2 linked regions of the Homo sapiens genome follow. The gene in region 1 interacts genetically with each later gene. Each region holds a gene or a part of one and is shown on either strand. Other genes may lie near its edges.

Region 1 (4,595 bases):
CTACAGGCGCCCGCCAACGCTCCCGGCTAATTTTTTGTATTTTTAGTAGAGACGGGGTTTCACGTGTTAGCCAGGATGGTCTCGATCTCCTGACCTTGTGATCCGCCCGTCTCGGCCTCCCAAAGTGCTGGGATTACAGGCGTAAGCCACCGCGCCCGGCCCAGAATTCTTTGTTTTGAGATAGGGTCTTGCTCTGTCGTCCAGGTTGGAGTGCAGTGGCGCGATCTTGGCTCACTGCAGCTTGACCTTCCAGGCTCAAGCGATGCTTCCAAGCTCAGCGTCTGCAATAGCTAGGACTACAGCTGTGCACCACCATGCCTGGCTAATTTTTTTGTAGATATGGGGTTTCTCCGTGTTGCCCAGGCTGATCTGGAAGTCCTGGGCTCAAGCAATCCTCCTGCCTCGGCCTCCCAAAGTGCTGGAATTACAGGTGTGAGCCACCATGCCTGACCTCAGAATTCTTGATAACCCTGTGAGGATGGCTTAAGCTATACTCAGGTGTGTGACCTTGTACAAGTTACTAGCCTATCTAGGCCTGTTTCCTCACTTACAAAATGGGGACAAAAATAAACCTACCTCATAGTCATGAGCATTACATGAACTGTTATATCTTAGAAGCTCAGAAATGCCTGGTGGTAAATGCTATAAATACACCCTTATCATTATTAGTGAGTACCTAGGTTGTGCATGCCACTGTTGGGTGCTTTACGCACATTAATTTACTTGTCAGAATAGCCATGGGGGGGAGGTACTATTATAATGCCACTTTAGATATGAAGAAACTGACGTTTTGAGAGATTGGATGATTAAATCTCTGACTCCAAACACAACGCTTCCTCCAACGCGGTTTGGCCTTGGAGAGGAAGGCAGCTTCTTTCAAGACACCCCTGAGCGAGAAAGTCGCGTCATCCGGGGGCTCCCATTGCCCGAGCCCGCCACGTGGCAGTCTGGGCCGAATGCCTCTCCCCACTTTCTGGGTGGGCGAGGCCTGACTCCAACCCCGGCCCTCCGCTCTAGACCTGGTACCACTGTAGATTCAATCCAAACTCCCAGAAATGTGCCGCCTTTCATAATCCCCAGCTGTCCACTACAGGTGGTAACTCCCCTGCTGCTCAATGTGGCGTAAATCTTCCCTTCCATAGCTGCGGGACCACAGCTCACCGACCTGGGACAAACACCCGAGACGGGCCGAATTCCAGCTCGCAGGTAGTAATTCCGCCCCTCCCCTCCCCGCTCCGTCGCGTCCAGTCCAGCTCTTCTAGCCCTGCCCCGCTCCTCTAGCCCAACCGCTCCCCACTGTTGGCCCCGCCCCTCCCCGCCCCGTCCAGCTCTTCTCGCCCCGCCCCGCTCTTCTCGCCCAACTGCTCCTCGCTGTTGGCCCCGCCCCTCCCCCGCCACCCCCGCCCCCGCCCCGCCCCTCTCTTCTCGCCCAACCGCCCACCTCTGTTGGCCCCGCCCTCCCATCTAAGTCACGCCTCCTAGTAGGTCAATTTAGCTTCTCCAGCTCCAGAGCCCAGACTCCTCATTGGGCGCAGCACTATTCCCGCCTCTTCCTTGGGTCGCGAGCGCCGAACTCATCGAACGCAGCCAATGGGTGATACGACGGCAGCGCGGCGGGAGGTTCGATTGACCCGGTCTTGGCGGGTCGGTGAGTCTTGGCGGCTGTTAACGCGCGCTTTGGGAACAGGAAGGTTGAGAGAGAGGTGCTGGGGTCTGCGTCTATCTCTGTCGCTCTTTTCAGCCCCTCCTGGTATTCCCCTCCTAACCTGGGTTTTTTACACGCCCGCGTGGCTTCCTGCTCGACCTCCCTGAGTCTGATCCTGGTTTCCACCTCCAGCCCTGGGAAATTTCCTTTCTCCAGACTCGCCCTCCCCACCCGGGCCTCGGACTTTCACCCCAGCTTCTCTCTCCTGGCCAGTGATTACCCACCCCCAATCCCACCCCGCCCCGCCGCGCAACTACCTCCTCCCTTCACCCGGACTGGGACCATCATCCCCACTCCACTCCGCCCAGTCTGGGACTCCACCTGCCTCCTCCCCAATCCCACACTAATCTCTGCTTGGTCTCTTCCTCTTTGGCCTAATCTCTCGTCTCGGCTTATTGGGGACGGCCACTCTCACAGTTTGGTTCCAAACACCAGTTCCTGGATGGATTCCCGCCATCCATGCCCCCTCTTTAATTAGCCGGTCCTCTCAATAATGTAGCAGCCCCCTCTACAGATTAGACCCTGGTCCTACACTCTTAGCCGCTGCCTGCTTTTGACCTTTGGCTCATGGGTACTTGACGTTTTAAACTCCTAGGCCCAGGATGGTAAGTGTGGGCCTAGGGGAGACTGGGAATAGCCCTGGGTCAGGGTCTAGTAGGCCTAGGCTGCAGGATCCTTGCAGGCACTGTTTCTGTTCTCCCTTTACAGAGGAGGAGCTTGGCTCCCAGCCAGCTGGCCAAGAGAAAACCTGAAGGCAGGTCCTGTGATGATGAAGACTGGCAACCTGGCCTAGTGGTGAGCACTCAAGGGGACAGGGAAGGTGGGTAGAGCTGTTTGGACAGAAAAGAAGCCAGGATTTGGTTTCTAGGGTTACATAGCCAATTCCAGATGCCTCTTTTGTATGTTCAATAAACTTTTAGTGAGTACTTACTATGTGCCAGGCATTGAACAAGATTAGTAAAATCTTTATCCTCAGGGTAGTCACTAGAAGCTAATATAGCCTCAGTTTTCCTGGTGGGAAAAGATAAGCAAAAGAGCCAGTTGGATTGGACCTTTTGACTCTGCTTGGAAAAAAGGGCTACACAACAGCAATTAGCAGCTGGCTCTTTTGCTCTTTGTCCCCTGCCCAGTGTCACAGAACAGTAGAGTGTTCTGGGCCTACCTTGGAGTCCTGGGCTCACTTGGGCCTAGATCTGACAGGTTGTGTCCTTCCAGTCCTTGCTCATACTCAAGTACAGTATATTCTACTTTAGGTTGGGCCCTGGGCTCTGCTTCCTGTTTTGGAGGCTTGTTGGGGCTGGCTGTGGGCAGGACCTATGTAAACCAAAATAAATAGGACAGTGCAGCATGGACTTCAGAGAATAAGAGCAGTTCAAGAAGTGGGGGCTTGGCCACTGGAACTTTGAAGGAAGGGATCAGCTACGCAAGGACTAGAAGGCACTTTTTGGCAGGAGCAGTGTGTGAATAAGGTGTGGGGTAGGGGTGCTGGTGTTTGTTTCAGGTGTGTCTTACAGGATCACTGAGGCTTCAAATATCCTGGCAAGCTGGTACAAGTGTGTTCTTGCCTAATGGCTTGATGGGGCTTGCTCAATAGTTGTACCGTGGTGTGCAAGGGGCTTCTCTACCTGTGAAGGAGGCACATTGGCTGACCCTTGCCATGTACATGGGTCTCAGACTTGAACTTGGGGCAGCATTCTCTGCATCTGGGTCTGCTGTCAGTTGCTGGTTGCTTCTGAAGATGCTTTTAGTGCCAGTGTCCTCACAGCCATGGGTGGCCTGAGTGGGGAGTGGCCTCAGTGGCCTGGGAGTTGAAGGCAGCTGTATTCTTGCCTCTTGGAAACTCAGCGAAATGTTTGGTTGCTCCATCATTCCATGGAGCTTTTGGAGTGAAGCTTTGGGCCACCAGGACTCCATGCTGTTGGTAGACTTGCTCTTCAGAGGCCCATTTTATTTACCTCTTCCATTGCCCCGCTCAGTTTAGGCAGGTTATTTAATCTCATTAAGCTCTAGTTTTCTCACCTCTTAAATAAGGATAATAACTCTACATAATAGAGTTGCTATGAAGATGATACACTATGACATGTGTGAAGAATTTAGCACAGTGCCTGGCACTTAATAAGCACTTCAAGTGTTAGTTGCCATTATGGTGATTTCTGTGGTCTTCTAGACTTCACCTTTCCCAATTCTCTCTCCTAGACTCCTAGGAAACGGAAATCCAGCAGTGAGACCCAGATCCAGGAGTGTTTCCTGTCTCCTTTTCGGAAACCTTTGAGTCAGCTAACCAATCAACCACCTTGTCTGGACAGCAGTCAGCATGTAAGCCAGAACTGCAACCTGCATGTGTATGTCTGTGCCCAGTCACTCAGCCTAGGTAGACTCCTGTCCCTGTACACTCCCTCAGTGCTTTCTAGAGTGGCCAGAAGACACACATCTGTAGGGGCTTTGGACCTGCCCACAGCTGCTGGGGCCTGCTTAGAGAGGTGTGCCTGACTTGTGCCTGGTTTATAGTAGCTACATGGGCACCAGATATCAGATGGTTCAGATTCCTGAGGAAAGGAGGGTAAAGGAACTAGGATCCTCATGTCAGCTCAGACTCTGACTCTGTATATGACTTTAAGGTGTACCAGAGTCATGTATTTCCTCTAGTAAAGTCAAACTTAATCACCACCATGGCAGGTTCTGTGCATTGCCTCATGTAATTCTCACGTTTTAAGATGAGAAAACAGTCTCAGAAGGGTTAAGTAATTTGCTCAGAGTGGGTGGAGCAGATCTGTCTATCTCCAAAGCTTTTCCACTAAGCTTTATGAGGAATGTTTTGAAGGAAAAGTAGGAATACATAATGGAGATTAGTCATTTGTGCATTCAGCAAACATTTAAAAACGGTTTTGTG
Region 2 (4,424 bases), on another chromosome or scaffold:
GGCGCAATCTCGGCTCACTGCAACCTCTGCCTGCTGGGTTCAAGCGATTCTCCTGCCTCAGCCTCCTGAGTAGCTGGAACTACAGGCACATGCCGCCACGTCCCACTAATTTTTGCATTTTTAGTAGAGACAGGGTTTCACCATATTGGCCAGGCTGGTCTCGAACTCCTGACCTTGTGATCCACCCTCCTCAGCCTCCCAAAGTGCTGGGATTACAGGCGTGAGCCACCGCGCCCAGCCATGGCACTAGTTTTAATGCCTCAGTTGCCCTGCCTGCCTCCTAAGTAGATGTTAAAGGCTACTGCTGTCTGCCCATGTACACCTGTTACACTTACCAATGTGTAACTTTAGCAGTAGAGTCTGTGGATCTGTGGAGTTCTAGTGTGGTTTTTCTCTCCAATTGTTAAGCTCAAGGGAAGCAAGTATCTTACACTCTCACGTATCCCTCACATACAGCACATGGTAAAACCTTTTTTTTTTTGAGACAGAGTCTAGCTCTGTTGCTAGTGTGCACAATCACAGCCTACTGCAGCCTCAACTCTCCAGCTCAAGCGATCCTCCCACCTCAGCCTCCCATGTAGCTGGGACTACAGGCGTGTGCCACCAGCCCGGCTAATTTTTGTATTTTTTGTGGAGACGGGGTGTCGCCGTGTTGCCCAAGCTGGTCTCAAACTCCTGGGCTCAAGCAATCTGTCCTTCTCGGCCTCCCAAAGTGCTGGGATTGCAGGCGTGAGCCACCATGCCCGGCCAAAATATTTTATTGATTAATTTGTGCTGTACTTGGTTGACAATGGCGCTTCCTTGCTGTTCTCCCACCACCTCACTGGCAACGGGTGATAAACCCTTTTTCAGATCCTACTACGTGTCAGCCTACTTCCGGCTGGGGGAAGATGGTTATAGCGAGAGGGGAAGAATTGGTTCAGTGATGAGAACATGGTTGGTTCCTGCCTTCGACAAGCTTTCAATCTAATGCCTGTTTTTTTCCAAGGACAATTCAGAACGGTCTGACAAGGGATTTTTTTTTTTTTCCTGCCTTTCGGCCTCAGAGGCCATCTGGGAAAAAGAGTTTAGAATTTCCCTGCCATTTCCATGCCGTGCTGGGAGGAACATTTGAAATCGGGCCTGGCGGGGTACCAGCAGGCAGCAATAGCAAGCGGGGTGGAGAGGAGCAGGGCCAGGCCCCCGAGCCGTCGCCATGGCAATCCAGCCTGCTTTCCAGTAGCTTATACCACCCACGTGGAGTAGCATACACTACTTTGTAATATCGTGGTTGTGTCGTGAGAACTTTAAGATTTTGCAGTTCCTTGTAGGCAGGAGTCCTGTTTGCTGCTACTTTACAATACTAGGCTTAAGACATTTTATGAAATGAACTCACACAACAGTCTCTGAGAGGCTCAAGCCCCTCCTTCCCTTCCGGGACGGAGGATCATAGAGCTGTCTGGCGCAGCGAGGCCTCCCGGCGCCACCGAGACGCGCAGAGGACGGCTAGAGCGTTGCTCGCCGAGAGACTTCCTCTTCGTTAAGTCGGCCTTCCCAACATGGCGCAGTCTATTAACATCACGGAGCTGAATCTGCCGCAGCTAGAAATGCTCAAGAACCAGCTGGACCAGGTGGGGACGGGCCCCAGAGGCACCTCTTTCCTGCTCTACATCCCCCTTGCCCACGCGTACTTCTCGCGCCCGGTTCCAAGTTGGCAGCCTACCTTTCCCAGGCGAAACCTCTATCCGATCCCAGGACCTGCCCCCTCCCCGGCCGCGCTCCTTTCTCCCCTTAGTCCTCTCATTGACCCGCTATCCCGGTCCTCTGTAGGAAGTGGAGTTCTTGTCCACGTCCATTGCTCAGCTCAAAGTGGTACAGACCAAGTATGTGGAAGCCAAGGACTGTCTGAACGTGCTGAACAAGAGCAACGAGGGTATGGGGTAGGCGGGTGAGGGTAACCTAAAGTGGCGAACCTGCTTCTCTCGTCCCACCTCCTAACCCAGTTTTTCTTACCTGAAACGAGAAAATCCATTACATATCGTATACCGCTTCATGAACCCTTTGCATGTTGCCTGCCTAGAATTGAAAAGTACAGGACATTCCTCTGCTCCTATTGCCCCTGTTTCCGTTCTTTTCACACTGTCTGTGGGTGCTGTGCCCTGTTGGAACTCTCTTTAACGTCTTACGTTGGAGCCGCTAACCTTCCCCAGGTGTTTGTCTTCATTGCTTTCACAGGGAAAGAATTACTCGTCCCACTGACGAGTTCTGTATCCTTTCCACAGGAACGGCTACCTGCTGCCTTCTCCCTTTCTCCTTCACTCCCCCAAAAAGCGGGGAGGGGGATTGTTTTGATTACTTCAGATTACCCTCTCCTCACAATGATTTTGAGGATACCCTTTTTTTTTTTCTTTCTTTTTTGAGACGGAATTTCGCTCTGTCGCCCAGGCTGGAGCGCAATGGTGAGATCTTGGCTTACTGCAACCTCCGCCTCCCGAGTTCAAGAGATTCTTCTGCCTCAGTCTCCCGAGTAGCTGGGACTTTAGGTACGCGCCACCACGACCGGCTAATTTTTGTATTAATAGTAGAGTTGGGGGTTTCACCATATTGGCCAGGCTAGTCTCGAACTCCTGACCTCGTGATCCGCCTGCCTCGGCCTCCCAAAGTGCTAGGATTACATTACAGGCGTGAGCCACTGCCCCCGGCCAAGAATACTCTTATTACACACTTTGTAGCTCTTTTATCTGACTTCACACCAACATCCAGCTAATGTCTTGTGAACACCAAGGAGTATGTATAGTTGAGATGTAATATTTCCCTTTGCTGTTTGAGAACATTAATATGGAGATAAAGCTGGTGGTTTACACTTTGCTAATATCTTAGAAGATACAGGCAATAGACAAAAATAGGAGGATATAGAAACAGGGAGCTTGGCTCTGTTAATCTTCAACTTCAGCTTAATTGTGGCTCATTTCTAAACTGTCACTAAGAAACCTGGATTGTGTTCACTTGTTCAGTGTTTTATTTGAATGAGCAAGTTATGGCAGTAGGGCATCTTTAATCTGTAGTCTCAGAACTGACAGGCTAAAAGGAACACAGGAATAGTAGTGTGTAGTAGGGAATGGTTTAAAAAAAAAAATTAGCCAGGCACAGTGGTTCACGCCTGTAATCCCAGCACTTTGGGAGGCCAAGGCTGGCAGATCACCTGAGGTCAGGAGTTAGAGATCGGTCTGGCCAACATGGTGAAACCCTGTCTTTACTAAATATACAAAAATTAGCCAGGCGTGGTGGCACATGCTTGTAATCCCAGCTACTCCGGCGACTGAGACAGGAGAATTGCTTTAACCCGAGAGGCAGAGGTTGCAGTGAGCCGATAGCGGGCAATTGCACTCCAACCTGGGCGATAGAGCGAGACTCTGTCTCAGAAAGCAAAAAACAAACAAAACATTGACTTTGTCAGGAATTAGCTACTTCATGATTGAGGGCATTAAGGGAAATGAGGCTGGCTTTTTACTTGTAGTACTCTACAACAGTAGGAAAACATGTCTAGTCTTTCTGGAGGGGCTAATGGGAAGAATTGCAAGAACTGCTTAGAGAGTGAGAGATGGGATGAGGCAGGACAAGAGGGTGTTCCAGCATACATCATTTTCTCCTTAAAGAACCAACTTCTCTGTCTTCTTTCCATTTGGAGTTATAGGTATTGTTCTAAGGCCTCCAGATTATTCAGTCCTTATGCCTTGTAGCTTTTTGGAAAAAGAGGGTCTTTGGAGGCCAAGCAGGCTGGCTGGCGGAATCATGGCTCATGCTGGGCTGGCTAGTTTTTCCCTTAATTCTTGCTTCTCAGATGTATGTCCCTGGGAAGCTGCATGATGTGGAACACGTGCTCATCGATGTGGGAACTGGGTACTATGTAGAGAAGGTGAGTGAGAGCATGTGGATGCCCCTCTAAACAGGGAAGGGAAATTCAGGGGAAGCTCTAGAGCGCAGCATGGCCAGAGGGAGTCTCCTTTTAGCCCCTTATTCACCTCTGATCTTGTAGACAGCTGAGGATGCCAAGGACTTCTTCAAGAGGAAGATAGATTTTCTAACCAAGCAGATGGAGAAAATCCAACCAGCTCTTCAGGAGAAGCACGCCATGAAACAGGGTAAGTTTTTCCTGGGGCACCTCTTGACCCTATCTCCATAATAAGGAACATGGATTGCAGTGTGAACCACGGGGGTGTCCCCTTTGCTGGAGTAAAACTATGTCTTAGTTTCTCTTTGGCATCTTTAGAATCTGTGTATTGCATAATCACTATCTGTAGATTCCTGGGTTGAGCGTTTGAGAAATTTAGAGGAAGGAAATCATGTTTGTGCTTTGGTGGAGCTCCTATTTAATGACGATGGAATGGGGGAATGAGATGAACACACAGGAAGGAATCATGATCCAAACGAACTAAATACCAGCA

The links.
Region 2: changes in RAD54L (region 1) and PFDN5 together harm fitness more than expected from each alone (negative genetic interaction), as found in Homo sapiens cells (one study listed by BioGRID).

What each region holds. Positions count from the first base shown.
Region 1 is NC_000001.11:46,246,099-46,250,693, forward strand, and holds the start of RAD54L (DNA repair and recombination protein RAD54-like), read left to right. Parts: upstream 1-1,664; 5' UTR 1,665-2,307; coding exon 2,308-2,310; intron 2,311-2,413; coding exon 2,414-2,500; intron 2,501-3,901; coding exon 3,902-4,021; intron 4,022-4,595. UniProt on the Homo sapiens protein: Plays an essential role in homologous recombination (HR) which is a major pathway for repairing DNA double-strand breaks (DSBs), single-stranded DNA (ssDNA) gaps, and stalled or collapsed replication forks.
Region 2 is NC_000012.12:53,294,030-53,298,453, forward strand, and holds the start of PFDN5 (prefoldin subunit 5), read left to right. Parts: upstream 1-1,512; 5' UTR 1,513-1,538; coding exon 1,539-1,610; intron 1,611-1,809; coding exon 1,810-1,912; intron 1,913-2,214; coding exon 2,215-2,246; intron 2,247-3,820; coding exon 3,821-3,895; intron 3,896-4,015; coding exon 4,016-4,121; intron 4,122-4,424. UniProt on the Homo sapiens protein: Binds specifically to cytosolic chaperonin (c-CPN) and transfers target proteins to it. Binds to nascent polypeptide chain and promotes folding in an environment in which there are many competing pathways for nonnative proteins.